Homo sapiens: one gene and its partners. The protein of the gene in region 3 interacts with the protein of the main gene of each other region in a biochemical or structural test. Each region holds a gene or a part of one and is shown on either strand. Other genes may lie near its edges.

Evidence for each region.
Region 1: of the proteins of MAP3K1 (region 3) and CEP85, one has a biochemical effect on the other in vitro, tested with the Homo sapiens proteins (one large-scale study listed by BioGRID).
Region 2: of the proteins of MAP3K1 (region 3) and DNAJB6, one has a biochemical effect on the other in vitro, tested with the Homo sapiens proteins (one large-scale study listed by BioGRID).
Region 4: of the proteins of MAP3K1 (region 3) and STAM2, one has a biochemical effect on the other in vitro, tested with the Homo sapiens proteins (one large-scale study listed by BioGRID).
Region 5: of the proteins of MAP3K1 (region 3) and CRELD1, one has a biochemical effect on the other in vitro, tested with the Homo sapiens proteins (one large-scale study listed by BioGRID).
Region 6: of the proteins of MAP3K1 (region 3) and NEK10, one has a biochemical effect on the other in vitro, tested with the Homo sapiens proteins (one large-scale study listed by BioGRID).
Region 7: of the proteins of MAP3K1 (region 3) and IMPACT, one has a biochemical effect on the other in vitro, tested with the Homo sapiens proteins (one large-scale study listed by BioGRID).

What each region holds. Positions count from the first base shown.
Region 1 is NC_000001.11:26,232,754-26,237,242, reverse strand, and holds the start of CEP85 (centrosomal protein of 85 kDa), read right to left. Parts: upstream 3,044-4,489; 5' UTR 2,933-3,043; exon of another isoform or gene 2,595-2,932; intron 1-2,594. UniProt on the Homo sapiens protein: Acts as a regulator of centriole duplication through a direct interaction with STIL, a key factor involved in the early steps of centriole formation.
Region 2 is NC_000007.14:157,364,095-157,368,106, reverse strand, and holds part of DNAJB6 (dnaJ homolog subfamily B member 6), read right to left. Parts: intron 1,606-4,012; coding exon 1,546-1,605; intron 735-1,545; coding exon 624-734; intron 1-623. UniProt on the Homo sapiens protein: Has a stimulatory effect on the ATPase activity of HSP70 in a dose-dependent and time-dependent manner and hence acts as a co-chaperone of HSP70. Plays an indispensable role in the organization of KRT8/KRT18 filaments.
Region 3 is NC_000005.10:56,877,691-56,881,702, reverse strand, and holds part of MAP3K1 (mitogen-activated protein kinase kinase kinase 1), read right to left. Parts: intron 2,724-4,012; coding exon 2,602-2,723; intron 993-2,601; coding exon 901-992; intron 621-900; coding exon 431-620; intron 134-430; coding exon 1-133. UniProt on the Homo sapiens protein: Component of a protein kinase signal transduction cascade. Activates the ERK and JNK kinase pathways by phosphorylation of MAP2K1 and MAP2K4. May phosphorylate the MAPK8/JNK1 kinase.
Region 4 is NC_000002.12:152,165,308-152,169,319, forward strand, and holds part of STAM2 (signal transducing adapter molecule 2), read right to left. Parts: intron 1-4,012.
Region 5 is NC_000003.12:9,936,602-9,940,613, reverse strand, and holds part of CRELD1 (protein disulfide isomerase CRELD1 isoform 2 precursor), read right to left. Parts: intron 3,053-4,012; coding exon 2,942-3,052; intron 2,600-2,941; coding exon 2,508-2,599; intron 1-2,507. UniProt on the Homo sapiens protein: Protein disulfide isomerase. Promotes the localization of acetylcholine receptors (AChRs) to the plasma membrane.
Region 6 is NC_000003.12:27,306,709-27,310,720, reverse strand, and holds part of NEK10 (serine/threonine-protein kinase Nek10), read left to right. Parts: intron 1-1,715; coding exon 1,716-1,795; intron 1,796-2,775; coding exon 2,776-2,862; intron 2,863-4,012. UniProt on the Homo sapiens protein: Plays a role in the cellular response to UV irradiation. Mediates G2/M cell cycle arrest, MEK autoactivation and ERK1/2-signaling pathway activation in response to UV irradiation.
Region 7 is NC_000018.10:24,440,012-24,444,023, reverse strand, and holds part of IMPACT (protein IMPACT), read right to left. Parts: intron 3,529-4,012; coding exon 3,406-3,528; intron 976-3,405; coding exon 872-975; intron 1-871. UniProt on the Homo sapiens protein: Translational regulator that ensures constant high levels of translation upon a variety of stress conditions, such as amino acid starvation, UV-C irradiation, proteasome inhibitor treatment and glucose deprivation.

The DNA of each region.
Region 1 (4,489 bases), on a different chromosome or scaffold from region 3:
CACATAAAATTAAATTTTATGTTATGTGATATAAGCCAAAAAAAAAATTCTAAGACATCCCCAACCACCTGAATGGATCCCTCCCCTTGGCCAATGGCATTCCAAAGTTAAGCTGAAAAACCTGTTAAGGCCATGATGGTGGTAGTGGTGGTGGAGTCCTACACCCCTCATTATACCCTCCTCCCTTCTGGAATTTAGGAAAAGCATTAACATTAACACAGATGTCTGTAAGAAACATTTATAATCTATTCTCTCTAAAGCCTACTATTTGGAGGCTTCATCTGTACAATAAAATGTTGATCCCCAGGATACCTTAACCCAGACATTCCTTTCTATTGATAACAACTTTCAACCAACTGCCAATCAGAAAATTTTGAAATCTACCTATGACCTGGAAGCCCCCACCCACTAAGAGTTGTCTTACCCTTCCAGATCAATGTAAATCTTACATGTATTTGACTGATGTCTCATGTCTACCTAAAATGTTTAAAACCAGGGCACACGTTATCAGGATCACCTGAGGGCTGTGTCAGGGGCCACTGGTCACCCATATTTGGCTCAGAATAAATCCCTTCAAATATTTCAGAGTCTGACCCTCATTGACAACAAATATCTCAAAAAAGAAAAACAGAAAGAAAGAAACCCCGTAAGGAGTAAAACAATACAAAATAAATCATTCTTGACTTAAGAATTAGATGAGCTACTGGTGGAAATTTTTGGGACAACTGAAGGAGACAGAAATTTCCTGGGATAAAAATGAGAGAAGTGAATGTACAAGAAGTAACACACCAGTTATAAAGCTTAGAAAGGGAGTGAATGGAGGCAGACAGAGGGGAAAAAAAAAAAAAGCACCCAACAGGATTGGTTTCCATCTTCAAAGCCCTTTAAACTACAGAAACAGTCACTCATTCAACAAATTTAACATGCATTCTGCACTTACTACCTATCAAACACTGTGCTCAACACTTTTTAAGTATCATGTCTCATGTTTCATGTTCACATCAACCCTATGAGGCAGTTACTATTATCCTCATTTTATGGATGAGAAAATAAAGGTTTACAGTAGTGAAGGTCATATGGCTAGGAAGAGGCTTCAAAGCCAGGACTGTACTCTAACGCTACAGTAGTCTAGTCAGCATTCTACATGTGACAAAACACAAAAAAAGAGATCAAGCATGGCACCACAAGTTGGAGTTTCTGCCTCAGACAGCTAGAGCTGCAAGCCTCAATTATATGAGCAGTAAAAGCTCATAAAATTTCTTCACTTTGTCCTTGGTCATCACCTAGGCTTTATTTCTCAAGTTGCTACCCAAGAATTAGATTTTGACTGCCGTAAGTATTTTTCCCCTATAAGAATTACAATCTAAGTGTGGCCGGGCGTGGTGGCTCACGCCTGTAATCCCAGCATTTTGGGAGGCCGAGGCGGGCGGATCACCTGAGGTCGGGAGTTTGAGACCAGCCTGACCAACATGGAGAAACGCCGTCTCTACTAAAAATACAAAATTATCCGTGCATGGTGGCGCATGCCTGTAATCCCAGCTACTCGGGAGGCTGAGGCAGGAGAATCGCTTGAACCTGGGAGGCGGAGGTTGCGGTGAGCCGACATCGCGCCACGGCACTCCAGCCTGGGCAACAAGAGCAAAACTCCGTCTCACAAAAAAAAAAAAAAAAAAAAGAATTACAATCTAAGTGTGGAACATCATGCTTGGCAGCTGTTAAGAGAACCACATCAAGACAAGAGAGGATTTGAAGGGATACACAGACAGCTGACACAGACACACGAAGGATCTCACACCATTACACTATTTTCACCGCCTTGATCATTCATTAAACCTTGTGAAAGAGAAGCCAAATCCTTGACAAGAAGTTGCCTTTACAAAGAAAAGTCGTGAGACATACAAAACCACCAGATCACTATAAAGCAGACAAGGTTTGAGGGCAAATAAATGAGGCCTGGCTAGCTTCATCGTCCTTGTATCACCACCGCCCCCTACTTATCCCAGTGTTCAATTCATCAACCGAAATTTACTGCGTGCCTACTATGCGCCTGGCTCTGAGCCACGTGTTGGGAATGTACTGGTGTAAAGGATCGCTCTCATTAACTGAGGTGAAGTAAGCGTTGAATATACTGTTGAACAAATAAACCTGAACACACTAACTTTCAGTTCAACCAAAGCACCAGCTCCTTCTCGCTGAAGGAAGCTTCCTCACCTTCCGCCCTACTGACATTTTGGGGGATTTTTCTTTGTTGTTGGGGGCGTCCTACACACAGTAGGCTGTGTAACAGCATCCCTGGCTTCTTCGCACTAGATGCCAGTAGCAAGCCCTGGAGCTGTGACTATCAAAAGTGTTTCCAGACATCGACCAATGTCCCCAGGGAAGCAAAATCGCCCCGGCCGAGAAGTACCGGGGTAAGGCCCCGCCAAGTGCTTTCCGTCCCACAACCTTAATTCTCTACACAGCCTTCCAATCTCGGCTCAAACTTCTCCTCCTCGGGGAGGGCTCCCTGACCTCTCCGACTAGATCCGCGCCTTCTGTTTTGCGCTCTTTGTAAGATTTCTCCACTCTACCCTCACTGCGCGCCGAGGGATTACCCCGCTTAACGTCGACTCCCAGGGCTGTGCGCTCCGCAAGGGCAAGGAATGCGCCGCTCGCTGTGTCCCTGGCTATCGGCACAGGGCCTGGCACGCAGGTAAAGTGACTGCCGTGGGGTGAACCACGGACGGCAAAGCAAGGCAACGGGGGAAGCGAGGGGAATGGGACGCGAGAGGGCGTATGCCGGGGCACTGGCTTCGGAGCCGAGGCGCATGCGCTTCGCTCTCCCCGGCCCCTCACGGTGGCAGGTCGCGAGCGTCTGAGGCTTCGCCGGAGCTATGGGAGGAGAGGCAAGGTCGGCCACTAGGACTGAGGCTCCCGAAGGAGGAAAACTTACACGGGCCTGAAAGCGGGCGGCGAAATCCCTCACTCGGGAAGACTGACTGCAGCCACCACGTCTGCGGTGAGCGGTGGTTCCCTCCCTCAGCTCCTCTAACGGCCGTTGCACGCCCGCCAGGCCGCGCGCCACAGAACGCGCGTCGTTTGGCCCCACCCCGTTCTGCCGCCTCTGGCCAATCGGGAGTCGAGCCGCGCCGGCTTCCCGCCCCTTTCTATCCTCTTCTGACCAATCGGCAGCCGAGCCGCGTCGGTATCCCGCCCCCACACGCTACCCTCTGCTCAGAGAGCCGGACGGATCTTTCTGCGCATGACCACGTCGCCACTTGGCTCCTTCTCTGCCCCTTGCCGCGTTTTACCTGTAGGTGGAGCTCTGCTCACCTAGACCTGGAGGGGCCCTGCTGGGCCTGTGCAGGTTGGGAAGCTGGCGGCCCGCGGGCGGGGCTGGGGACACGAGAATCCCACTCAGCTTGCCTCACCCTCCTTCCATTCCAACGCCGGTCTATCAGTTCTCACACCTGAAGCAGGGGTTCAGGTTGTGACCAGGAGTTAGGGTGTGGCCTGGGTCACTGACTAGTCAGGGTCAAGGCTTGGTCTGGGTTGGACGCAGTGGTCAGCCTGTGACCAAGGTTCAGGTTGAAGGGTAAAGGATCAGTCCTGCCTCCCTCCCCAAACTTGGTCCACAGGAAAAGGAACTGTTAAGTCCATTTGCATTAATATGCGCTTGAAGAGTCAGACAGGAAAATTGTTTGAAAGGAGAACAGAACCATCAGCCAAAGGAATGAATCTCAGATAGTGAAATTCTGGGTATCTAGAAACCTGACTTGGCAGGGAGAGATACTAAAAAATTGTATAGGAGGCCGGGCGCGGTGGCTCATGCCTGTAATCCCAGCACTTTGGGAGACAGAGGAGGGCGGATCACGAGGTCAGGAGATCGAGACCATCCTGGCCAATATGGTGAAACCCCGTCTCTACTAAAAATACAAAAATTAGCTGGGTGTGGTGGCGCATACCTGTAATCCCAGCTACTCGGGAGGCTGAGGCAGCAGAATCGCCTGAACCAGGGAGCCGGAGGTTGCAGTGAGCCGAGATCGTGCCCCTGCACTCCAAAAAAAAGTTGTATGGAAAAAAAAAGTTGTATAATTTCTTAGCTTTAAGAGCCAGACAAAGTGAGTTCATTACTGAATAAAAGTCACTCTAGAGGAAAGACCCTAGGGATGTGCCCCAAGGTTGTATCCTTTGTCCTCTCTTTTAGTATTTTAAGATAAGAATATAGAAGACATAAAATAGCAGATTTAATGGATAATGAAAATGAACCTGGGTATGATATGAAATTAGGACCAGAAGCCTCTGTTAACGTAAAGGCTAAAAAAAAAAATGTTAAGACAGGGTGTCTAAATGAATAAATTTATGGACTGAAGGGTAGAAAGCTAGAAAGTGTTAGTCCTGGCCGGGCACGGTGGCTCACGCCTGTAATCCCAGCACTTTGGGAGGCCCAGGCAGGTGGATCACTTGAGGTCGGGAGTTTGAGACCAGCCTGTGGCCAACATGATAAAAC
Region 2 (4,012 bases), on a different chromosome or scaffold from region 3:
GGCCTTGCTCTGTCACCCAAGCTGGAGTGCAGTGGCCCAATCTCAACCTCCCAGGCTCAAGGAAATCCTCCCACCTCAGCCTCCCAAGTAGCTGGGACCACAGGCACACGCCACCACACTCAGCTAATTTTTAGTATTTTTTTTGTTGTTGTTGAGACAGGGTTTCACCATGTTGTTCAGGCTAGTCCAATGCTGCTTTAAACACAAAGTTTCGTGACAAAATACAATGTTAACTTTTTTTTTTTTGAGACAGGAGTTTCACTCTTGTTGCCCAGACAACAATGCAATGGCATGATCTCAGTTCACCGCAACCTCTGCCTCCCGGGTTCAAGTGATTCTCCTGCCTCAGCCTCCCAAGTAGCTGGGATTACAGGCATGCGCCACCATGCCCGGCTAATTTTGTATTTTAATAGAGACGTGGCTTCTCCATGTTGGTCAGGCTGGTCTTGAACTCCCAACCTCAGGTGATCTGCCCGCCTCAGGCTCCCAAAGTGCTGGGATTACAGGCATGAGCCACCGCGCCCAGCCTAAAATACAATGTTAATTCAACAGAAAGGCCATACTAAGTAAGCCCTCATTTGGGTCATGGACACACACCAAGTCAACCCACGTGATTAACTTACCAAAGAAGTCAAATGAAAATGGGTCCCTTCCACCAAAAAATTCCCTGAAGACATCATCTGGGTTACGGAATGTGAAGCCAAATTCAAATGGACTGTCAAAATGACTTCCACCTGCACAAATACAACACAGCTTTTAGTTTATGAATTTTGGTGCTTTGTAGGCAAAGAATTCTTTGTTGACAAAACATTATACAAATCATGAACTAATAAAAACAAAAATATTTCATAAACCTGAAGTTCTCTATAATTCAAAACATGAGCCCTGTACTGACAGAGAGTGAGTGTGCCCAGCGCTGATGGCATATGAGTGCAGCAGTGGCCCCTTCGACACTACTTTTCACCATCTCTAAATCCGTGATCGGCATATAACATGTAACATTACACACCATTTTTATGATTTGTTATGAAGGTTTATGAAGACCAAGAGTATCTGCATCCACTTCGACGACTGGCCTCCTGGAGCCACAGAAGCTGCCGCGTGGCCCCAGTGGGTTTGGAGCAATAATTTCCCAACACCCCTGGGGAGGCTGGTCACAGCCCAGTGACCGTGGGAACTTTTGGGGACAAAGTCCACGCCCTTCAAAGTCATTATTTTAGCTTTTCAGGAAAATCTGCTCTTTAAACCCTTAGGATATTTTGACATAACGTCAAGTGCTGATCTAAGGGTATATGTTCACAATATATTGCAGTATGGTTACAAATTGTTTCTATCTATAAAAAATACATCAACATATACTTCTAGTCTCGTAAAAGACTTTTAAATGCCATCAATTTCTCTGTCCTCTCCCCAATTTAGTTCGCTTTCTACGTTGCATCTCTATTTACTGATACAAAATCGACTCTGACCAAGAGACTCGTGATTTACAAACTCAACTTACTTGCCAAGACCTTTTGTCTTCAAAGAAAAAACTCACGTACTTACCTCCTCCTCCACCATTTAATCCTTCTTTGCCATATTTGTCATAGATGTCCCGTTTCTTAGCTAAAAATTGAAAGAAAAGTCGGTAAGGCCAAGTTCCTTTTAAACCCTTAATTCAATAGATAAGGTATTTCCCCAGTTGTAAATCAGTTTTCGATGTTTTACAACTGAATTTCAAGGAGTATGGCCACCTTTTCTTTAAAACAAAACAAAGCAACAGGGAAAACTTTCTGTACCTCTCTCCTGAAAAACAATTCAAAAAAAATTCAGTATGTTGAATTTTTACAAGTTATTAGAAATATTTAAGTATTTACGGCCAGGCATGGTGGCTCACACCTGTAATCCCACCACTTTGGGAGGCCAAGGTGGGCAGATCACCTGAGGTCAGGAGTTTGAGACCAGCCTGGCCAATATGGTGAAACCTCATCTCTTGTAAAAATACAATAATTAGCCAGGCGTGGTGGCAGGCACTTGTAATCCCAGCTACTCAGGAGGCTGAGGCAAGAGAATAGCTGGAACCCGGGAGGCGGAGTTTGTGGTGAGCCAAGATCGTGCCATTGCACTCCAGCCTGGGCAACAAGAGTAGGCGCGGGGGGGACTTAGCCACGCGAGGTAGCTCATACCTGTAATCCCAGCACTTTCAGAGGCCGAGAAGGGCCGATCACCTGAGGTCAGGAGTTCGAGAGCAGCCTGGCCAACACGGAGAAACCCAGTCTCTACTAAAAATACAAAATTAGCCAGGCATGGTGGCGCATGCCTGTGATCCCAGCTACTCAGGGGACTGAAGCAGGAGAATCGCTTGAACCCAGGAGGCAGAAGTTGCAGTGAGCCCAGATTGCACCATTGCACTCAAGCCTGGGCAACGAGCAAAACTCCATCTCAAAAGCAAAAAAAAATTTTTTTCTTTATTCCATTAGATCGTTTCTTTCACTCTACTGCACAGAGCCCAGACATGCTACATTAAAATCACACGACCAAGTACAAGATTATTGCAACCACAGAAGTGCACCATCTTACTACAAAAACCCAATTAGAGGACCATATCTGCAGCACGAAAACAAACATGCCAGGGCCTAGGCAAGTGGGAGAAAGCAGATGTGCCAGAAAGGCGCCAACCTAACACCCTACAGGCTCATTCACCCTCGAAGTGGACCACCCGGATGCAAGGCCTGGGGCTAGTGTGCCCCTCTCCACTGACAGTCTTCACACTTACATTCCAAATGCTACTTATATCCCAGAACAAAAACAATGACATTAGAAGCACTGGTACTTCTGACATGACACCATCTGCGTTCCTCAAAAAATCTCATAGGCTGGATGCAGTGGCTAACGCCTATAATCCCAACACTTTGCGTGGGCAAGGAAGGTGGATCACTTAAGCCCAGGAGTTCAAGACCAGCCTGGGCAACACGGCAAAATCCCACCTTTAAACACAATACAAAAAAGTTAGCTGGGCACAGTGGCACCCACCCGTGGTCCCAGTTACTCAGGAAGCCGAGATGGGAGAATCGCTTGAGCCTGGGAGGTCAAGACTGCAGCGAACTGTGATCATGCCACTACATTCCAGCCTGGGCAACAGAGTGAGACCCCTTCTCAATTTTTAAAAAGTAGAAGAAAATCTCACATTCCACAAAATGGGAAAACGAGCTTAGAAACAAACCACTTGCAAGCAGTTTCAGGTAGCCAGTGCCATGGCAAGAACAATGACCATGTTTTGAAGACAACTCCAGCTGGCACTGAAGGCTGCCTAAAAGGACATGAAAAACACACCTCATACACCTCCCAAAAGAACCAAGCGACTTTTCAGTGTGGTAGTTTAAAGCTGCTCTATCAAATATGAAGCTTCATTTTGGCCCTCACTTTTCCTAATGTTACTAGTCCCTAAAATCCTGAATCTGGCAATACTGAATTAGCACACAAACAACAAGGACCGAAGACCAAGATGGTAACACTGAGGCCTGTGCCCTCCTCTGTCACTCCCAGCGCACAAATCTAAGGGAACAAGCCTGGCGCAATGGTGCTTGGAACTTGAGGAGAGAGGACGATCACCTCAACCCAGGAGTTCAAGGCCTCCCTAGGAAACATAGCAAGATCCTCTCTCTTTAAAAAAAATAAACTTTCCAATGAATAAGCTCAACAGTTCAAGACCTTAAATGCCACATTTCAAGAAGACTTCAAATATCGGTGTTTTTATGTCTTTTCATATTTTTTGAAGTAAAATGTTTGGAATTTCCTCTAAAACAAAGGGGGTGGGCCACAGTGTCACCAGAGAAAGCAAGGCTGGTGGTGTGCTGGTAGCTGTTGAAGGTGGCAAGCTTACACTGGGTTCCTTCTGATTGGTTTGGTTTTGTTTTGTTTTTTGGAGACAGTCTCGCACTGTCGCCCAGGCTGGAGTGCAGTGGCGCAATCTCGGCTCACTGCAACCTCTGCCTCAAATTGGGTTCTTTAAAAAAAAAAAAAATTTTTTTTG
Region 3 (4,012 bases):
AAACACATGGGGTACTGTAGTAACCATTCTTGCAGAACTCAAGTAGATCCTTCTGGAAAGTTTGCCAACCATTGAGTGGGAATTATCAATGGACTGCAAAGCAAAGGTTAAGAGGGACAGCAGCTTCTTATACCTGAAAGAAAAAAACATTCATTACCATATAAGTTCCAATTACTGAAAAATACATGGAAACTTAAAAAATGGTAGTAATTTACAGCATGTATACTTCAAAAACCATTTCAGCATAAAGTATCTATGAATTTTTAATTAAAGAGCCCAGACTTTGGGTTTTCATATGTCAATCAAATATTAAGGTATCAGCAACCTATTCATGCTCTGAGTCTTTCAAAAATCTAAAATGTGTCATTCTTGAGGAGGGTGTAGGGAGGGTAGGAAGATACAAGTAATACATTTTCAGAAGAAAAATTACCTGATTTCAACAGGCTCAGCTTGTGAAACATCAGTACTGACAATATGAGGATAAAATTCAGCAGGAAATTCCAACAACAGTCTATCTATAAGACAAAGGCGGCCAAGAAGTTCTTGCCAATTGTTTGATTCAGTTTGGTTTCCAAGAATACAATTTAAGACATAATCAACACCACCAATACCAATGGATCCTACAAAAAGGAAAGTAAAAATAAATGATTAAAAAATAGTGATATTAAAATCTAAAACAAGACATGATTAAATGGTGTAAGGCCAACAAAAATATTCTGAACTATTTTAAAGAATTTCTCTCTCAGAGTAATTCACATTTCTAACTGTAACACAGTGAATCAATTTATAAAATTACTTCAAAATCCTGTAAACTGCCTCATGAGAGATTATGAGATTAGACAAGGCTGCTCAGGAACATGATAAAATATGCTATATTCCTTTTAAGTGAAAAGTTATTACCAGCTTTTAGTATTTCTCTGCCAACTGCCAACTCTCCTGCTTGGCCTTTGCACAGTTCCAACAGTGTTGATATGGACAGCTGACTTGTGCGGCTAAAAACAAAGGAAAAGCAACATCAATCCTGGATCTTGGCTAAAACACTATACAATATTAGAGGAGTAATGTAATGCCTTGTGAAAAAGTGGAGAAATAATGTTTTCAGGAGTGTTTACTTTTCCACCACTAAAATCATATTAACAATGTCACCATAAGTAGTAATATTCATTTATTAGGTCTAATTTCGTAAATTTAACATATCCCCTATGTTAAGCACAGAATTTTCAACAATGGCTCTTTGCAAGTACTGATTTAAATACCAAATCAGATAAAAGTCTTATATTTTGTTAAAAGAAAAAACAAGGACCTTGATATTTTGATTTCTGAACTTTCACTAAGAAGCTCTTGAATTAAAAACAAAACCTTCCTATCCAAAAACCCTCCATTTCCTTACATAGCCAAAATGAGGTCTGAATATTATAAAATCTCTCTACAGTATTTCTTATGTTCAGTCATTCAGGTGACCAGGTAAACAACCTAAGTTTGGAGTTTCAAAAAGTGAGCAGCATAACAAATACCATGAGAACACTGAATTCTCAGAAATATACCTATTCTAATATTTAAAAATGACATTTTTCCTATGCATTTTGCAAATTACTTGTTAATTTGCAATATTTTACAGATATACAATGTTTTCTCTAAGCAACAAGGAAACATCCAATATTTTCAATCTATAGAGAAAACAATAGAGGCAAAAGACAGACTTCATGATATGAGAAATTCGTTAAAGGTAGGTACCTAATTTTTGAGATCCTGTGCAAACTAAGTCATTATGACTTGCAGAGGAAGAGAAAGGTTGTACTGAGAGAACTCTAAATGGGTGAAATGGAAGAGGCAACAGAAGGGAGATTCAACACTTCTTGCTAACCAAGATCTGCTGGGATAGAAAGAAATAGGAACTACCAAATAACTGTTCACAGTAGCTGTGATTATTAAATGAAAATTGATCTTTTCCTCCTATTTTATGGAAGGGGAAAATAAAAGAGAACCATTGGTCTGAAAAAAGCATGGCTTGTACTCATCTTTACTGTCATTGTACCTCAATTCTCTACTTCATATTTTTCTTTCCAGTTAGGGTTATTCTTGTTCCCTGTCAATTTTTAAGGATATTGCAGGAATATAAAAAATCTAAAAATTTTTTGACAAAACTGTCATAAGTAGAGTAAAATTCCACTACACTGAAAATGAGATGGATTTGTTAATTTTTTATCCTGATAATAAGGCATATGCAGGTGTAATGATCTTACTGGTTCCTATTCTGTGTAACCCATACTCTAATATGAGATTATAACTTATAGATATAAATGTCAACTACTGTTCTTATCGACTGGTCTTCAGATTATGAATGTTACTAAAGAGAGTAAATCACAATACAATAATGTGGAGATCCATGCAGTTTGTTTGCCTGGCTTTTACTTGCCAGTAGTTCTTTCCGCCAGTCCTTAAGAGCTTTATGCTGCATTTTCATTTTAAATCTCACATTAAAAGACAATGTTCAAAGACTCATTTAATAAAATGTATCAGATATTCACACTAGGTGTGAGGCTTGCTGCGAGGCACTTTTAAGACAAGAGGGTTTGAAGTGATTCATCAATAAAGCCTTACCTATTGGCATCTGCACATTTGACTAGGATGGTGTCTACAACTGGCTGGAGAAGTCTCTGAAGTTTGATTCTTTCCGCTAAACTGTGGCAAGGAGTATATACCAGCATGGCTCTCAATGTTTTCTAAGGAAAAAAATCTGAAGGTCAGTTTATGTACACTTAAAAAGCATCAGAGATAATGGCCTAATTTGAGACAATTTGAGCAACAAAATAAGTAGACAGGAATGGATTATAACCCATAGAATAAAATAAGAATTCCATGCTTCTGTAATAATACAACTAACTAACAAAATAAATGAATGGGGCAGGAAGGAATTTTCTGAACTCTTTTCTCTGCAATTTTTAAAAGTCTGAATTCATTTCAAGATGAAAAGTTAAAAAAAATTATTTTAAAAAAGAAAATGAGAACAGGCGCCAACCTGAAAGAGCTCCCAATGGTCAAGGCTGGAATAATTAGAGCAACAAAACAAATGATGGTAGTACTGGGTTGCAACCCACAGAACAAAATGAATACCCAGGAGCCTACACCAATACAAATTAAAAATTGAATAGGTATATAAACAGAGAAGCTCTTCTTTATAGAATAATTCCAATTAATTAATGTAGAAGGAATGAGGAAAATAGAAAATCACCACTAGAACACCATTTTTTAAATTATACTTTAGTTGTGGGGTACATGTGCAGAACGTGCAGGTTTGTTACATAGGTACACACATGCCATGGTGGTTTGCTGCATCCATCGACCCGTCATCTACATTAGGTATTTCTTGTAATGCTATCCCTCCTCTACCTCCCGACCCCCGACAGACTCCAGTGTGTGATGCTCCCCTCCCTGTGCCCAAGAGAGCACCATTTTTAATGGTGTAGTAATAACTGCTATAGGCAAGATCCACAAATGCTTTTAAAATCAGTGGACAAAATTTTGAGGTGAAATAGGGTATTTGCATAATCTCAAAGTAACTCTCACAAGATATTTAGGAATATTAACTTTACAGCAGGGAAACTTGGTAGACATTACCTTAACTGACAGCATCACCAATAATAAAAGCCATGGGCATATGTACCCACTGATATGATGCACTAAGAAAGGCCTGTCACCTCTGTGGCGTTCTTGTGAAAAATACGTAACTTCCATCTAATCATGAGAAAACATCAGATAAACCCAAATTGAGGGATATTCTACAAAATAACTGGCCAGTAAACTTTGAAAGTATCTGTCAAGGTCATTAAAAACCAGGAAAGGCTGAGGAACTGTCATGGATGAGAAGACATTAAGGGGACATGGTGACTAAATGCACTGTGGGATCCTGGATTGGATCCTGGAACAGAAAAAAGACAACAGCAGAAAAACTGGTGAAATCTGAATAAAGTCTGCAGTTTAGCTATGAAGGGCACTGTTGGGCAACTGAAGA
Region 4 (4,012 bases), on a different chromosome or scaffold from region 3:
GTAGTCCCAACTCCTCAGGAGGCTGTGGCAGGAGAATTGCTTGAACCCAGGAGGCAGAGGTTGCAGTGAGCCGAGATAGCGCCACTGCACTCCAGCCTGGGCAACAGAACGAGACTCTGTCTCAAAAAAAAAAAGTCTCCAAGGCAGCCACTAACATGCCAAAAAGTTACAGATAGAGAATCAAAAGCAAACAGGCCAGGCAGATGATTACATTACCTCTGCAGACTGAGAAAACCATTATGCACACTCCGTATGCACCTGTGGAGTACTGTCAGGCTTCAGGGGGGTGGCGCGGGATACACATCACCAATAAAACAACGAGGACCTGCCTTGCCTACATCCATCTCTGAAGCTTTCTTACTAGCTTATAAGCTTTGGAGTAGTTCACCTCCATTCTGACTCAAACCCAAATCCATGTTCTCATTTGTCAAATGGAGATTAAAATAGCTGCCGTGCTTAAAAGAGTTGTGAAAATTAAGTGAAAAGAAAAATGGACAAAATATTTAAACAAGTAGTACTTTGAAAAAGAGAACATTCATTTAGCAAATAAATATATTTAAACGTGCCCAAAATCAAGAGTTATCAAGTAAATGCACATTAAAACTACAATGAAGGCCGGGCACAGTGGCTTATGCCTGTAACTCCAGCACTGCGGGAGGTCAAGGCGGGCGGATTACATAAGGCCAGGAGTTGCAGACCAGCCTGGCCAACACAGCGAAACTCTGTCTCTACTGAAAATACAAAAACTAGCCAGGCATGGTGGTGCACATCTGTAGTCCCAGATTGAACCTGGGAGGTGGAGGGTGCAGTGAGCCCAGATCACGCCACTGCATTCCAGGCTGGGGGGCAGAGCAAGGCTCTGTCTCAAAAACAACAACAACAACGACAAAGCCCACAATGACATACCCACTAGAATAGCTAAAAATTTTAAGACTACATCATCATGTAGTGACAAATTTCTGACATAAAACTGGAGTAATATGACAAAATGAAAAATCAAGGCAGGGGAAGAAGAGGAGTGGTCAGATTCAGAGACAAAAAACAACCAAGGAGGAAAAAAATAACAAGAGATAAAGAAATGATATATCCTTAAGTTTTATTTTGATATCTGGGTGATAGATGGTTAGAACTGATAGTTGTCAAGTAACCAGAGTTTGATATCCTACCCTACATACATATATACACAGCCTATTCTTAACACCTATAAGCAGGTGGCCACTTCAGAATGTCAATAATTTTCAGGGGACAATGGCCATTCCCAGATATCTGCCACAATGACCTTCTTAGGTTCAATCTCTCCATTAAATATAAAGGTTTATTCATTATCAGGTAACTTAAGAGAACCTAATAAGGTATTAATGTTTGAAAAAAAAAAAGTTCTTCCCCTTCAACCCTCCACCTCAAGGACTTAGTACTGCTGGGGACAAACCAAAACACTGCACATGCTAGATTTCTTTAAGCAGATCTTTTTTTAGAAGAGAAGGTTAAGATAATTCATCCCATGACAAATGAAAGTAAAAGCTGCTGCTCCAGATAAGAATAAAAAAAACTTTTAGTACAAATGAGAAGTAAAATTCTGAGTCACTACAATTCTCATATTGCAAATGAAAATAAGCAAGTGCTTACTAAGGGTACGTTTACCGACCAAGAAAATAGTTTGCGAGTTTTCAGATACAATAACAATTTCACTGAATAACAGATTTTTCATCCAACTGCTATCATTTAAAAATTACACTAAATATGAGGGAGACTGTACATAATAAAATTTTTTAAATCCTTCATCATTTCCCTTCATGCTTTTTTTAAATATGAGATTAAACACAGTTCTGAGCTTGCATTAAAAGTCAGTAAGAACTGGAACTACTTCACAAGACACTTCATTTTCAACATTTCTTAACTGGAGGAAACTAAAGAAAGGCCTCCCTGAATGCAACAGAGATCGCCATAACAGGTCTCCATGGTGAAGAACTGTAAATGTTCCACAAGGTGCTATAGGGACAGAGAGGTGCTTGTCCTTTAAGCATAGCAGCCACAGACCCATTAAGAAAATAACGCTAAAGGAAGTCTAAAAGCTGGGAGCAACACTTACTACACCAAAAAAGATAGCAGATGCCAATAAGTCAATGTGAAACTTAATCCTAAAAAACAAAGGATGAGGGAAAAGAATGTTTCAACAATACCAAAATGCCTCAGGAACTAATATCCTTCTCACCCATGGTGTTGGACAAATATTGCCAATTAGCTGATATTTTTATAACAGGAAAAAGACTGTAAGCAAAAACACTTTTAAAGACTTTGTAACTTAGGCCAGGCATGGTGGCTCACTCCTATAATCCCAGCACTTTGGGAGGCCGAGGCAGGTGAATCACTTGAGGTCAGGAGTCCAAGACCAGCCTGGACAACATGGTGAAACCTCATTTCTAGAAAAAAATAAATAAATAAATAATTAAAAATTAGCCAGGCATGGTGGTGGGTGCCTGTAATCCCAGCTACTCAGGAGGCTGAGGTAGGAGAATTGCTTGAACCCAGGAGACAGAGGCTGCAGTGAGCTGAGATTGTACCACTGCACTTCAGCCTGGGCGACTGAGTGAGGCTGTGTCTCAAAAAAGAAGAAAAAATAAAATAAAATAAAAGCTTTTTAACTTAAGACAAAATGAAAAATCAAGGAAGGGGGAGAAGAAAAGTGGTCAGATTAAAGGACAATAGACAACCAAGGAGGAAAAAAATAACAAGAGATAAAGAAATGATATATCCTTAAGTTTCATTTTGATACCTGGGTAATAGGTGGTTAGAACCATCACTTGTCAAGTAACCAGAGTTTGATATCCTACCCTACATACTTATATACAAGGCCTATTTTTTTTTTCTTTTGAGATGGAGTCTCGCTCTGTCGTCCGGGCTGGAGTGCAGTGGCGCGATCTTGGCTCACTGCAACCTCTGCCTCCCGGGTTCAAGTGATTCTCCTGCCTCAGCCTCCCGAGTAGCTGGGACTACAGGCATGCACCACATGTCCGGCTAATTTTTGTATTTTTAGTAAAGATGGGGTGTCACCATGTTGGTCAGGCTGGTCTCGAACTCCTGACCTTGTAATCCGCCCACCTCGACCTCCCAAAGTGCTGGGATTATAGGCATGAGCCACCGCGCCCAGCCACAAGGCCTATTACACGCAACACCTCTGAGGTCCTTTATTTAAACAAAAGCCATGCTAGAGACACATCCACCTAACTACACTGCTATAGTATTATGTTGTATATTCACTGGCAGAAAATCATTCTCTTCTTGACTTACTTACAAATTATACATAAGCTTATCATTAAATGTTATTAAGGAATAAAAATATATTTTAAACCATCAATATCAGCTGATGTGAAACAAAAATAAAATTATAATGTCTTTTCTCTTACATCCTAAAAACCTACAAGAAATTCCCTTGTATAATGATTTTAACCAATCTGTCATATAATCCATTTGAAATGCCCAAAATAGCTAAGACAATTATAAAACAGTGGGGAAAAAACAGACAATTCAATCCACAGTGATTAGACAATTGATTATTGTCTATTGTCAACTGGTTATCCAATTCAATTCCTCCGCAGACCTTATACAAAAATTAATTCCTGGTGGATCAAAGACCTAAATGTGAAAATCAAAAGTTTAGTAAAACTTGCAGAAGAAAATATGAAAATATCTGTATAACCTCAGGGTGGAGAAGGGTTTCTTTTCTTTACTACAGGTGTGAGCCACCACACTCAGCCCTGAAGCCTTTCTTAAGAAAAATAAAATTAAGGGAGAATGACAAATATCACTAAGTGAAAACCCACATTTTCTTTACAATAAAAGACAGCAGAAACAAACAGAACTAGAATACAGATTTGTAACATACATACCCAACTAAAGATTAGTAAGAAATGTATCTGGAACTCTAAAAATCAATTTTGTTTTATTTTTTGGTGTTGGTTTTTGGTTTCGTTTTTTTGTTTTGTTCGGGAGACAGGATCTGGCTCTGTCACCC
Region 5 (4,012 bases), on a different chromosome or scaffold from region 3:
GCCATCTCGGCTCACTGCAACCTCCCTGCCTGATTCTCCTGCCTCAACCTGCCGAGTGCCTGCGATTGCAGGCGCGCGCCACCACGCCTGACTGGTTTTCGTATTTTTTTGGTGGAGACGGGGTTTCGCTGTGTTGGCCGGGCCGGTCTCCAGCTCCTAAACGCGAGTGATCCGCCAGCCTCGGCCTCCCGAGGTGCCGGGATTGCAGACGGAGTCTCGTTCACTCAGTGCTCAATGGTGCCCAGGCTGGAGTGCAGTGGCGTGATCTCGGCTCGCTACAACCTCCACCTCCCAGCCGCCTGCCTTGGCCTCCCAAAGTGCCGAGATTGCAGCCTCTGCCCGGCCACCACCCCGTCTGGGAAGTGAGGAGCGTCTCTGCCTGGCGGCCCATCGTCTGGGATATGAGGAGCCTCTCTGCCAGGCTGCCCAGTCTGGAAAGTGAGGAGCGTCTCTGCCCGGCCGCCATCCCATCTAGGAAGTGAGGAGCGTCTCTGCCCGGCCGCGACCCCGTCTGGGAGGTGAGGAGCGTCTCTGCCCGGCCGCCCTGTCTGAGAAGTGAGGAGCCCCTCCGCCCGGCAGCCGCCCCGTCTGGGAAGTGAGAAGTGTCTCCGCCGGGCAGCCAGCCCGTCCGGGAGGGAGGTGAGGGGGTCAGCCCCCCGCCCGGCCAGCCGCCCCGTCCGGGAGGTGAGGGGCGCCTCTGCCCGGCTGCCCCTACTGGGAAGTGAGGAGCCCCTCTGCCCGGCCACCACCCCGTCTGGGAGGTGTACCCAACAGCTCATTGAGAACGGGCCAGGATGACAATGGCGGTTTTGTGGAATAGAAAAGGGGGAAAGGTGGGGAAAACACTGAGAAATCGGATGGTTGCTGTGTCTGTGTAGAAAGAAGTAGACACGGGAGACTTTTCATTTTGTTCTGTACTAAGAAAAATTCTTCTGCCTTGGGATCCTGTTGATCTATGACCTTATCCCCAACCCTGTGCTCTCTGAAACATGTGCTGTGTCCACTCAGGGTTAAATGGATTAAGGGCGGTGCAAGATGTGCTTTGTTAAACAGATGCTTGAAGGCAGCATGCTGGTTGAGAGTCATCACCACTCCTTGATCTCAAGTACCCAGGGACACAAACACTGCGGAAGGCCGCAGGGTCCTCTGCCTAGGAAAACCAGAGACCTTTGTTCACTTGTTTATCTGCTGACCTTCCCTCCACTATTGTCCTATGACCCTGCCAAATCCCCCTCTGGGAGAAACACCCAAGAATGATCAATAAAAAAGACAAAAAAACAAAAAAAACAAGATAATATTTTCTGCTCTGCATATCAGTAAACATTTTTGGAGAAGAAAATTAATTTTAATGACATAATATTTTGTCATAAAACTGACATTTACTTAACCAATTTCCTCTTGTGGAACAATTAGATTTTACAGACCTTTTATTTATTTATTTATTTATTTATTTATTTATTTATTTATTTATTTTTAGTGACAGGGTCTCGCTCTGTTTCCCAGGCAATGACATGATCATAGCTCACTGCAGCTTCGAACTCCTGGGCTCAAGCAATCCTCCCACCTCAGCCTAGGGGAACAACAGGCTGCACTACCATGCCCCACTATTTTTTTTTTAAGAGACAGGGTCTTGCTCTACTACCCAGGCTGGTCTCTCAAACTCCTGGCCTCAAGTGATCCTCCTGCCTCAGCCTCCCAAAGTGCTGGGTTTACAGGTACGAGCCACTGGACCAAATATTTTCTTTTTTTTTTTTGAGACAGAGTCTCGCTCTGTCGCCCAGGCTGGAGTGCAGTGGCATGATCTCGGCTCACTGCAAGCTCCGCCTGCCGGGTTCATGCCATTCTTCTGCCTCAGCCTCCAGAGTAGCTGGGACTAGAGGCGCCCGCCACCATGCCCGGCTAATTTTTTGTATTTTTTAGTAGAGACGGTGTTTCACCATGATAGCCACGATGGTCTCGATCTCCTGACCTCATGATCCACCCACCGCAGCCTCCCAAAGTGTTGGGATTACAGGTGTGAGCCACCGCGCCCAGCCAATATTTTCTTTTACAAAGACTGAATTTGCCATCTTTGTAGCTAGCTCTTTATCTGTAGCTTCAGGAAAGACTGCTCTAAAAGAGGCTGGTAGTAAGTTCAGCTCTTGTGCCAGGACTGTGTGTGAGGATGGATGGCGATCATGGAGGCTCCAGGTCAGCACCCGCCCCTCCCCAGGAAGGTACCATAGTCCGATCTGGCATGGGAAATGAAGGGGCTGGGAAGTCTATCATTTCTTTAGTACATGATGATAACTATACTGCATATGACTCAGTCTAGCCCCTGTGCTTTCTCCAAGCCTTTCCCCACTGATTTGCCCATCTCCCCAGCCCTGTCAGGCAGGCAAGAACTGAGGTCCAGAGAAGTTTATCTGAGTAGCCTGAGTTCACACAGCGAACTAGGGACAGAGCCAGGACTGGATCCCTGGACTCGGTGGTCCCCTCCCATCCCCAAGAGCAACTTAAAAACTCACGAAGGCAGGAGGGCCCGAAGGTGCCTGCGGGGCAGCAGAGCTTCAGGGAATCTGAGCACAGCCACTGGAAGAGGTCCGGGGCCTCCTGCTGCCTGAGGCAGGGGCAGGGTGGAGGGAGGTGGGGAGGAGGTGCTGAGATAGTGTCATAAGTGCTGTTCCCATTCCCCCATGCCTGAATCTGTGATTCAACCCAGCTTGGACATAAGACCCAAAAGGCCATCTGACCAATGCCCTTTCCCCATTTGGCAGAAGGGTAAACTGAGGCTCAAAGTGGAGCGCAAGTCCCCCGGCAAGTTCTTAGCAGACCTGGGTTTGGAAGGAGCACAACCAGGACATGGGCCCCAGCATGCACCCCCCTGCTTCTCGGCCAAATCAGGCCTTATCACCAGGCCTCACCTGTGACCCACTTCCAGGGAAGGCCCTTTGCCACTCACTTGTGAAACCACCAGCTCTCCACCAGCTCCTCACTCAGCTCCAGCAGGCGGTGGCACTCGAAGTCTGACTTGCTGCACACACCCTCCAGCACCTCTACCAGGCGGGTCTCACTGATCGGACAGGGCAGGGCTGGTGGGAAACATGCCCCACCCCACCCACCACCCTCCTCAAGTCTCTCTCCACCCTTCCTCGTGCGGTGAAAATATCAAAGGAGAGGCCATGAGGTATAATGGAAGGGGTCATGGTTCTGGGAAGCAGAGAGACCTGGGTTCAAATCTAGTGGTAGATCTAGTGGGCAAGTCACTTAACCTCTCTGAACCTCTTTGTTTTGTCATCTGTAAAATGGGGATGACAATACCTTCCCTGCAGGTTTGTTGTAACATACATCAGTTCCTGCATCTGAGCAATGGAATATAATACCCTTGCTGGGTAGATATGGCTAAAAATACATCCTATAACAAGTGTTGGCAGGGATGTGGAGAAATTAGAATCCTCCCACACTGCAGGTGGGAATACAAAATGGCATCACCACTGTGGAAAAGCAGTTCCTCAATAAGTAAAACATGGAATTGCCATAGGACCTGCCAATTCCACTACTGGATATAGACCCAAAAGAATGGAAAACAGGTGTTCAAACGAAAACTTGTAGACAATGTTCATAGCAGCACTATTCACAACAGCCAAAAGGTAGAAACAATGCAGATGTCCATCAACTGATGCATGGTTAAACAAAATGTGGTACAGCCAAATGAGAATATTATTCAGCCATAAAAAGGAATAAGTATTGATATATGCTACGGTATGGGTGAACCTTGAAAACATTATGCTAAGTGAAACTAGCCAGACACAAAAGGCCACATATTTTATGATTCCAATGAAATCAGCAAATCCATAATTTCTGCTTGACTAACACAAATTAGTGATTGCCAAGAGCCGAGGGAAGGGGAGAATAGGGAGTGGCTGTGTAATAGGTATAGGATTTTTTGGGGGGGTAATGAAAATGTTCTGGAACTACATAGTGGTGATGGTTACACAACATTGTAAATATTATTAAATGTCTTTAATGGGAA
Region 6 (4,012 bases), on a different chromosome or scaffold from region 3:
TATGCCATTTAATACCAACTAGGTTTATTACTTAAATATTATTTGAAAAGCCCCAGCTATGTATAAATACACCCTAGGTGTGCATTTATAAATAAGTCAACAGAAATAAACAAAATGTACATATGTATACATATAAATTCCATATGGCATGTGGGGCTATATTAGTTTGAACCATATATGATTGCCATTGTAGGTCAAAACAGACTATATTTATAGCAAAACTGTTTAGACTGTAGCCATGTGGAGCCAAGTTTCAGAAACCTGTTGAGTTTCATATCCCGGGAAGCCACTTTCTAGTGTATATGGGAGCAAGATTGCCTAAAATGTGTTAACACATGCTGCTCATGGTCTAGAGGATGATTCTAGGTGATACACAGGTCAACATTTTTTGTTTCAGTAGCCAGCTATTTCACAGGTATTATTGCTTACAATTGGAAAAAATTTTTTTGAGTTAACATTAAAGATGTTAGTTGAATATGGCAAAAAATGTGAAAATGATATGTAATGGATTGAAGTTTGGGAAACATTAGAAGACAGAGAAGAAAGAGAGAAGAAAAAGAGGAAAGGATCAGACAAATAAAGATAATGATAACTTCATTAAGATAAAATGAAATCATAAAGGCAAAAAATCCATATACTGGAAACATAAAAATTACCTTAGCCGTTGTTGCGCAGGTTGCAGCTCTGACCTGAGACATTTTGGGAGGCACTTTTCAGGGGCACTCCGCATTCTGAAAATGTAGAGAATTTTCCAAATAAGAAAATTTGCCTTAACGAGAATTCAGGGAAAGCCACTGACAAGCTACAGACTTCCAGCTAAGTCATGTTAGTTAGGATGATGCTTGGGAGCATCAGTGATGCACTTTCAACATCAATTAGAAATCTGGGAGGCAAATGGAATGCTCGATAGTATTCATATCTTGTTTAGTTTGGCAAAAGAATGAAAGTTTCAATATTTTGTTGAAAAATCGTTTCATAATTTGGAAAGTGCCTAGCACAATGCCTGGCTCAAAGTGAGTTCTCAATGGCTGATCACTACCACTATTGTAATTTATGTCATTAATCTTCCTGGTTCTTCCCAGCGTGGGATCAGAAGGGGGAGAGAATACTTGGGCACATGGAAATAGAAGGATGTATGAGAACCAGGCTGGTCATGTAGCTTGATGCCTTTTCTTCCTGTCCTGGGCAAGGAATGGCTACAAGAGGTTACTATCAAGAGTTCCAAAGTAAGGAGAGATGGACTCCTGCCATCTGTAAAGAACTGGATATTTTGAATGTTTAATAAAACTCTTTTTAAGATAAACTTTTATATTGACTGCAAAAAATAAAAAGGAAGCTGCATAAGGCTTGATAGGGCATAATTTTTTTCACTATTCTATGGGTAAAGCCATAATAAAATAAACAACTTGATTATATTGACAAAAAGTGTTTATAAAGATATATTTAATGCCATGAAAAAATTTCAGTAGATAACATTAAGAAAAAAACATAAGAGAGAGCAGCTTTAACATTATATATAGTTTGTGCTTAATTGTATATGCACATACATTATAAACTACTAAGCAAAAAAAAAAAACAGTTAAGCCTATATGATCTTAAGAGGGAAGCATTTTGTCATTCAAGCAGCTGGTAATGGAAAATAAATTAATGTTAATGTTGAAAAAAGAAGCTTGTAGTACTTATATAATTAAACTTTATTTTACTTCATTTTTCAGACATTAGTAAATTTACTTGGTGCCCGAGATACTAATGTTCTATTGGGTTCCCTTCTGGCTCTGGCTAGTTTAGCAGAAAGGTAAGTAGTGTATTCTAATATACTTTCCAGTTCTGCTACTATAGCAATTTAGGTGGTAAGGATGCAAAATAATCAGTTACTTTGTCAACTACTTAATACAATTTCTTGATAAATAAGTGTGAAATAACATGTTGAAGAGAATCCTGGATAGAAGGCATTATTTAAAAATTTAAACTGGAAAGGCAAATTGCAGTTTAAAATTTTCTTTTTATTTCCTGACTGGAAATATTTAGTCTTTTCATCTAACCCTCAGTTACTTCTAATTTCAAAATTACCATAATATTTCTTTGGCAGTTGAATCTTTCTGACCATCTTAATTCATTCTTACCTGTGAATTTTAACATACAGAACGTTTTCAAACATCTGTGGGCTTTGAAAAATTTTCAAGAAGATCTTTCCTCTTATAAATGTCATGATTATTTTAAATGTTTTTATGACAATAAGTGGACCATTGCTTTTCTGTGAATAACATATGATTCCTTTTGTTTTTTGATCTCTTCTCCCAAGATAATATTGGAGCTAGGATATTAAATAAATAAATTTATATGGTTAGGCTTTGTGTCCCCAACCAAATCTCATCTTGAATTGTAATCCCTGTAATCCCCATAATTCCCTCATGTCAAGGGAGAGACCAGGTGGAGGTCATTGAATCATGGGGCCATTTCCTCCATGCTGTTCTCATGATAGTGAGTGAGTTCTCATGAGATCTGATGGTTTTATAAGGGGCTCTTCCCCCTTGGCTCGGCACTTATCCTTCCTGCTGCCTTGTGAAGAAGGTGCCTTGCTTCTCCTTTATCTTCCACCATGACTGTAAGTTTCCTGAGGCCTCCCTAGCCATGCTGAACTGTGAGTCAAGTAAACCTCTTTCCTTTATAAATCACCCAGTCTCAGGCAGTTCTTTATACCAGTTTGAAAAAGGACTAATACATGGATCTAGCAAAATATGCTTTTAGTAATTGCTAATATTTTTCAATTTATAGTCAAGAATGTAGGGAGAAGATAAGTGAACTCAACATTGTAGAAAATCTGTTGATGATTTTACATGAATATGACTTGCTTTCTAAAAGGTAGGATTGCTAACAGTAGAAAAAGACAATGCAGTGCCTTTATTTGACAGATACACTTGTTATTATTTTTATTACGTCATGTTATTTACATTGTAACTGAATATGATGAGTCAGCTTGGCATTTATTTTCTGTTTAAGTTTATATAAAGAAAATAGAGCAAAGAAGTATATCCATTTATGTTTAGTCCTGCATTACTTCTAGATCTGGGCATAGAAGCTGATGAAATAAATTTTTGTGATATCATTTTTAATGTTTTGTTTATTGCATTTATTTATATCCTGCCTTTTTAGGGAAAGAAACTCTGAGGTGGCTCTAGTTTTAGTAATTTCAAATTGTATATTACAATAAGTGATTAGGTTGCTAAAATCCATTTGCATGAAGGCAAGTAAAATAAGATAGCAACTGACTTGTTTTGTGATCACCTGCTATGATAACTCAAAATCTAGAGTAAAATGGATTCATTTTTACTTGAACTGCATATTGTTCTAATAACTATCCAGATAGTTATTAGATTGTACTTAAATAGAGTTGCAATCTATATCATTTGATATTTAGTTGAGTAATTTTCTAAAGAGGCAAAATAGATAAAAAGAAATCTCCAGCAATGGAGCCCTGACACTTAACTCATAGTAAATCCTTTTGGATTCTTCTTCAAAACTCTCATAAAAGAGCATTAAATATAGATAATACTTATAGACTTGGTTATCTGAACAAACAAGGTTCCAAGCTTGGTACCAGGTGTTGAAAACCAAAGATGAATAAGTTATAAATATGTAGTGTAGAAGAGGGTCAAACAGTGCTATAACTGATACGGTAGACAGATGCACAGGGTACTCTGGGAACATGGAGCAGAGACTTCCCAATTAGAATGTGGAGTCATGCAAAGTTTCCTGGAGGAAAGAGAAGATATCTAGGCAGAGAGAGAGAGACAACATAAAAACAGTATGTGCTTGGACATGGAGGCATGAAATTGGGTGTGTTAGAGGAATGTGATGGTTGGGCACAGCAGGACCATAAGAACAAAAGTGCCAGAGAACTAGAACAGATAGTTAATGATAAATTTAAAATGTAGCTAACTTTGATCAGTGTTTTCTATATGCCAAGACCTGCTCTAAGCACTTTGCTTATTAACTCATGTGATCTGCACAT
Region 7 (4,012 bases), on a different chromosome or scaffold from region 3:
GAAGCCCAGGGCTTTAAAGAGCTTCAAGAGTAGGGTAGCTGCAAAGACCAAAGGAAGAGACTCATGCCTAAAACCTGCAGTAAATGAGACATTTTTAAAAATGTAACTTTACAGGTAGTATTGAAATTGCCTCGTACATCAATAATGTAAGCTGAGCTACATTATAGAAGCAAGGAAGAAGAAAAGGATTCTGCTGAAAGGAGAATGAGAAAGGCAAAGACCTAGGAATAGTTTATGGCTGAAACCTCTCCCATTTATATCCCTGGGTGGAAATATGGTCACCTAAGATCAAGAAGCACAAAGGAAAGTAAGTCAGGTAGGGAGGACTTGGTTTAGCCAGTCTGTCCACTGTCCCCTTTGTTGAATAATAACAGAGGAATGGACTTAGTTTCACAGAACTCCCATTCGACAGGACAAATAATTCTTTTTGACAAGGTATTAAGCATCATAATTTTCTCTAATAACACAATGGGTATTTCTTATTTAAAGATTCATTAGAGGGTTAACCCCTAATCAGAGTTTAGATACAATTTTGAAAGCAGTGACAGGCCTGGCTAGGTGGCTTATGCCTGTAATCCCAATACCTTGGATTGGGAGGGCTGGAGGCAGGAGGGCTGATTGAGTCCAGATTGAGACCAGCCTGGGCAACATGGTGAGACACCATCACAAAAAAAAAGAAAGAAAGCAGAGACAAACAGAAACAAAACAAATCTTCCGTGATTCACAGTAATTTGGGAGTAGAAAAATGAACAAATAATTTTTATCTTATATGAAAATAAAACATAAAAGTAAAAACAAGGGGATTATTGCAAAATCATTTACCTGAATTATTTTAGTAATCATCAAAGTGAGCTAGACAAAGGAACTTTACCTGTTTGGGACAAACCACTGGAGCCAAGTGTGCCTGAAAAGTACTTCTTCGGTCTGTAATAGGAATGCCATGATCAATCGGAGGTAATTCTTCTACTTCTACTTCTAGAAATGTAAAAGAAACTTTATTTTTTAAAAAGCCTTACATTCAAATACTGAAAAAAATGAAATGGGGGGGCAGCTGGGAAAGAAATGTAAATTACATGGCAAATCAACTAAAATAACCATTAATCGCTATCTACCAAAATTAAATTTAAATTATAATTTTAAGTAAAAAGTTTCTAACTATATTGTACATAAGATTAAAATACTTGATTTATAAATGATTTCCACCTGCCAAGGTTACCCAGGGGAAGCAGTGGGTTGGGACTAATCTTGAACTGCTGCAGTCAGTAGTGTAAGTTGGTACAATATCTAATATATAATTTTTAAGAGTGTAAAGGAGTCCTGAAACCAAAGATTTATAGCTGCTAATATAAAATTTATTTATCAGTTTCACTGTTGTTAGACCTCTGAGTTGGGAAAACTATGAATTTATATTCTTTATATTGTGTAGCTATAATATAATGCCTTCTGCTAATGAAACTGTTTCTACTTCATATGATGGAATTAAATACATCAATAATACATCCAATTGGTATTCCTTAAAGAGCATCATGATTTCCAGTTATTATACCTCTTAAAACAAGTTTAAGGATCATGGCTGGGCGTGGTGGCTCACGCCTGCAATCCCAACCCTTTGGGAGGCCGAGGGAGTGGATCACCTGAGTTCAGGAGTTTGAGACCAGCCTGGCCAACATGGTGAAACCCCCGTCTCTACTAAAATACAAAAATTAGCTGGGCATGGTGGCGTGTGCCTGTAATTCCAGCTACTCGGGAGGCTGAGGCAGGAAAATTGCTTGAACCTGGGAGGCGGAGGTTGCAGTGAGCCGAGTTTGTGCCATTGAACTCCAGCCTGGGCAACAGAGCAAGACTCCATCTCCAAAAAAAAAAAAAAAAAAAAGAATCACTAATTAACCCTCAATTCTGTTGAGAGACTTAATCGTCCTGGCTACTACTACCTGCCTCACTTAGGATGAAAAGTTATTCAAGACAAGAAAGTAGGTTTATGTAAGATGTTTTACACCTTCCCTCTGATACTGTTCTTTTCCTGAATTGATTTTGACTGCTGTACTAACATAGTAATAAGTCAAATACAGTATTAGGGTCAATATGAACTACTGACCAATTGATAGTATTTATTTATGAGTATGATTTTTATCCTTTTTCTTTTCATGGTAGATCCTGTTTTCAAAAGATATCATATGTCAAATCCACACACAAATAAATGATTAAAATGGGAGCTACTTAGGCTAGAGCATAAATGAGAGCCCTGGATGCTCCCCACTCTTTCATTTCCTCTTTGTTCCCTTCTACTAGTCCTGGACACCATTCAAAAGCCTTAAAACTCAGAGCACCTTTTAAAAGCTACTGTGTAATGACACAGGAAACCCCTCACCTTCAAACAGAATGAATATTCCCCCTGGTCTACCATGTTTTCCTAAGAGGCTTAGGGAAACTAACAATAACATTCAAAATTTTAAAATATTAAAATGAAACATAATATCACAGCAACCTATTTTTATGTTGAATACTACTCGATTACGAAACAAATTTGTTTAAACGAAAACTAGGCCGGGCGTGGTGGCTCACGCCTATAATAATCCCAGCACTCTGGGAGGATGAGGTGGGTAGGTCATTTGAGGTCAGCCTGGCCAACATGGCGAAACCCAATCTCTACTAAAAATACAAAAATTAGACAGGCATGGTGGCATGTGCCAGTAATCCCAGATACGTAGGAGGCTGAGGCAGGAGAATCACTGAACTTGGGAGGCAAGGTTGCATTGAACTGAGATCGTGCCACTGCACTCCAGCCCGGGCAACAGAGCAAGACTCTATCTCAAAAAAACAAACAAACAAACAAAAACTGAACTCAAGCTGGGCACAATGGTGCATGCTTGTAGTCCCAGCTACTCGGAGGCTGAGGTAGAAGGATCACTTGAGCCCAGGAGTTCAAGGTCAACTTGGGCAACACAGCGAGACCTTGTCTCTCAAAAAAAACCTCTTAAAGGCATTTTACTAGCTTTAATTTCCAGGGCTGCACTTTCAGTTAATATATTTGTATTTGTGAGCACAGACTAAAATTTAATCCTGAAACATCAGGAAACAGCTAAGGATTTCAATACAGAAATATAAAAACATGATGTTAACTAAAAACGTTAATAGCCTTTCTTAGTTTCAATTTCTTCCATCACTAAATCAAAACTCTAGAAAGTAGGGGGAAAAGAGTAAATTTCCATTTTTTCCTTGCCATTCTGATAAGACTTGGCAAACACCAAAATTGCCAACAGGCAGGAAAAAATTAATCTTATCTGCAAATTAATAACTCCTTCCTAAAACTGGAGAAAATTAGTAAATTTCTCTATCATCTCAAAGAACAATACATAATACTACCAACCCACTCTCCTCAAAAGAAATTAGTTAGTAACATTATACCTGTCCGAGTTTCACTGATATCAAAATCCAATGCTTTAAGCGAACTTTCCGGCTGACATGCTAAAATGAGATCATCTTCACATTCAACATCTTCCTCTTCAGTTTTCTTCTTTACATCTGGGCCTATGTGAATATGAGACACAATTACTTTATGACGCAGGTAAGAAACGATGCTTTTTAAAAAAAAATCACTGGGTCTTGGGTTCTAAATACCACTCTTCAACGAAAGGAACCAGCACTCAGCCCGTAGGAGAACTGGTTGATTCCTGAGTTGGAGCAAGGAAACTACAAGATGAACCTGGAACCTCATGTGGATCCACAAACTGGGAAATGCTCAAAAAGAGATGGGGCTTATAAAAAGAACACAGGAGTTAACCTGAAGGGGCTCTTAAAGGTCAAAGCTAGAACAATTTGAGCAACAAAAAAATATGATAGGATGGCATTTTAACCCATGGACTGAAATAATATACATGAGTCCATACTGATATAAATAATAAACAGATAAATAAATACATAAATGGGAAGAGACATCCCTTCCTCATAATAGAATTCCAATTACTAAATGAGGAAGGAATGAAGAAAATAGAAAATCATCATCAGGCAAACA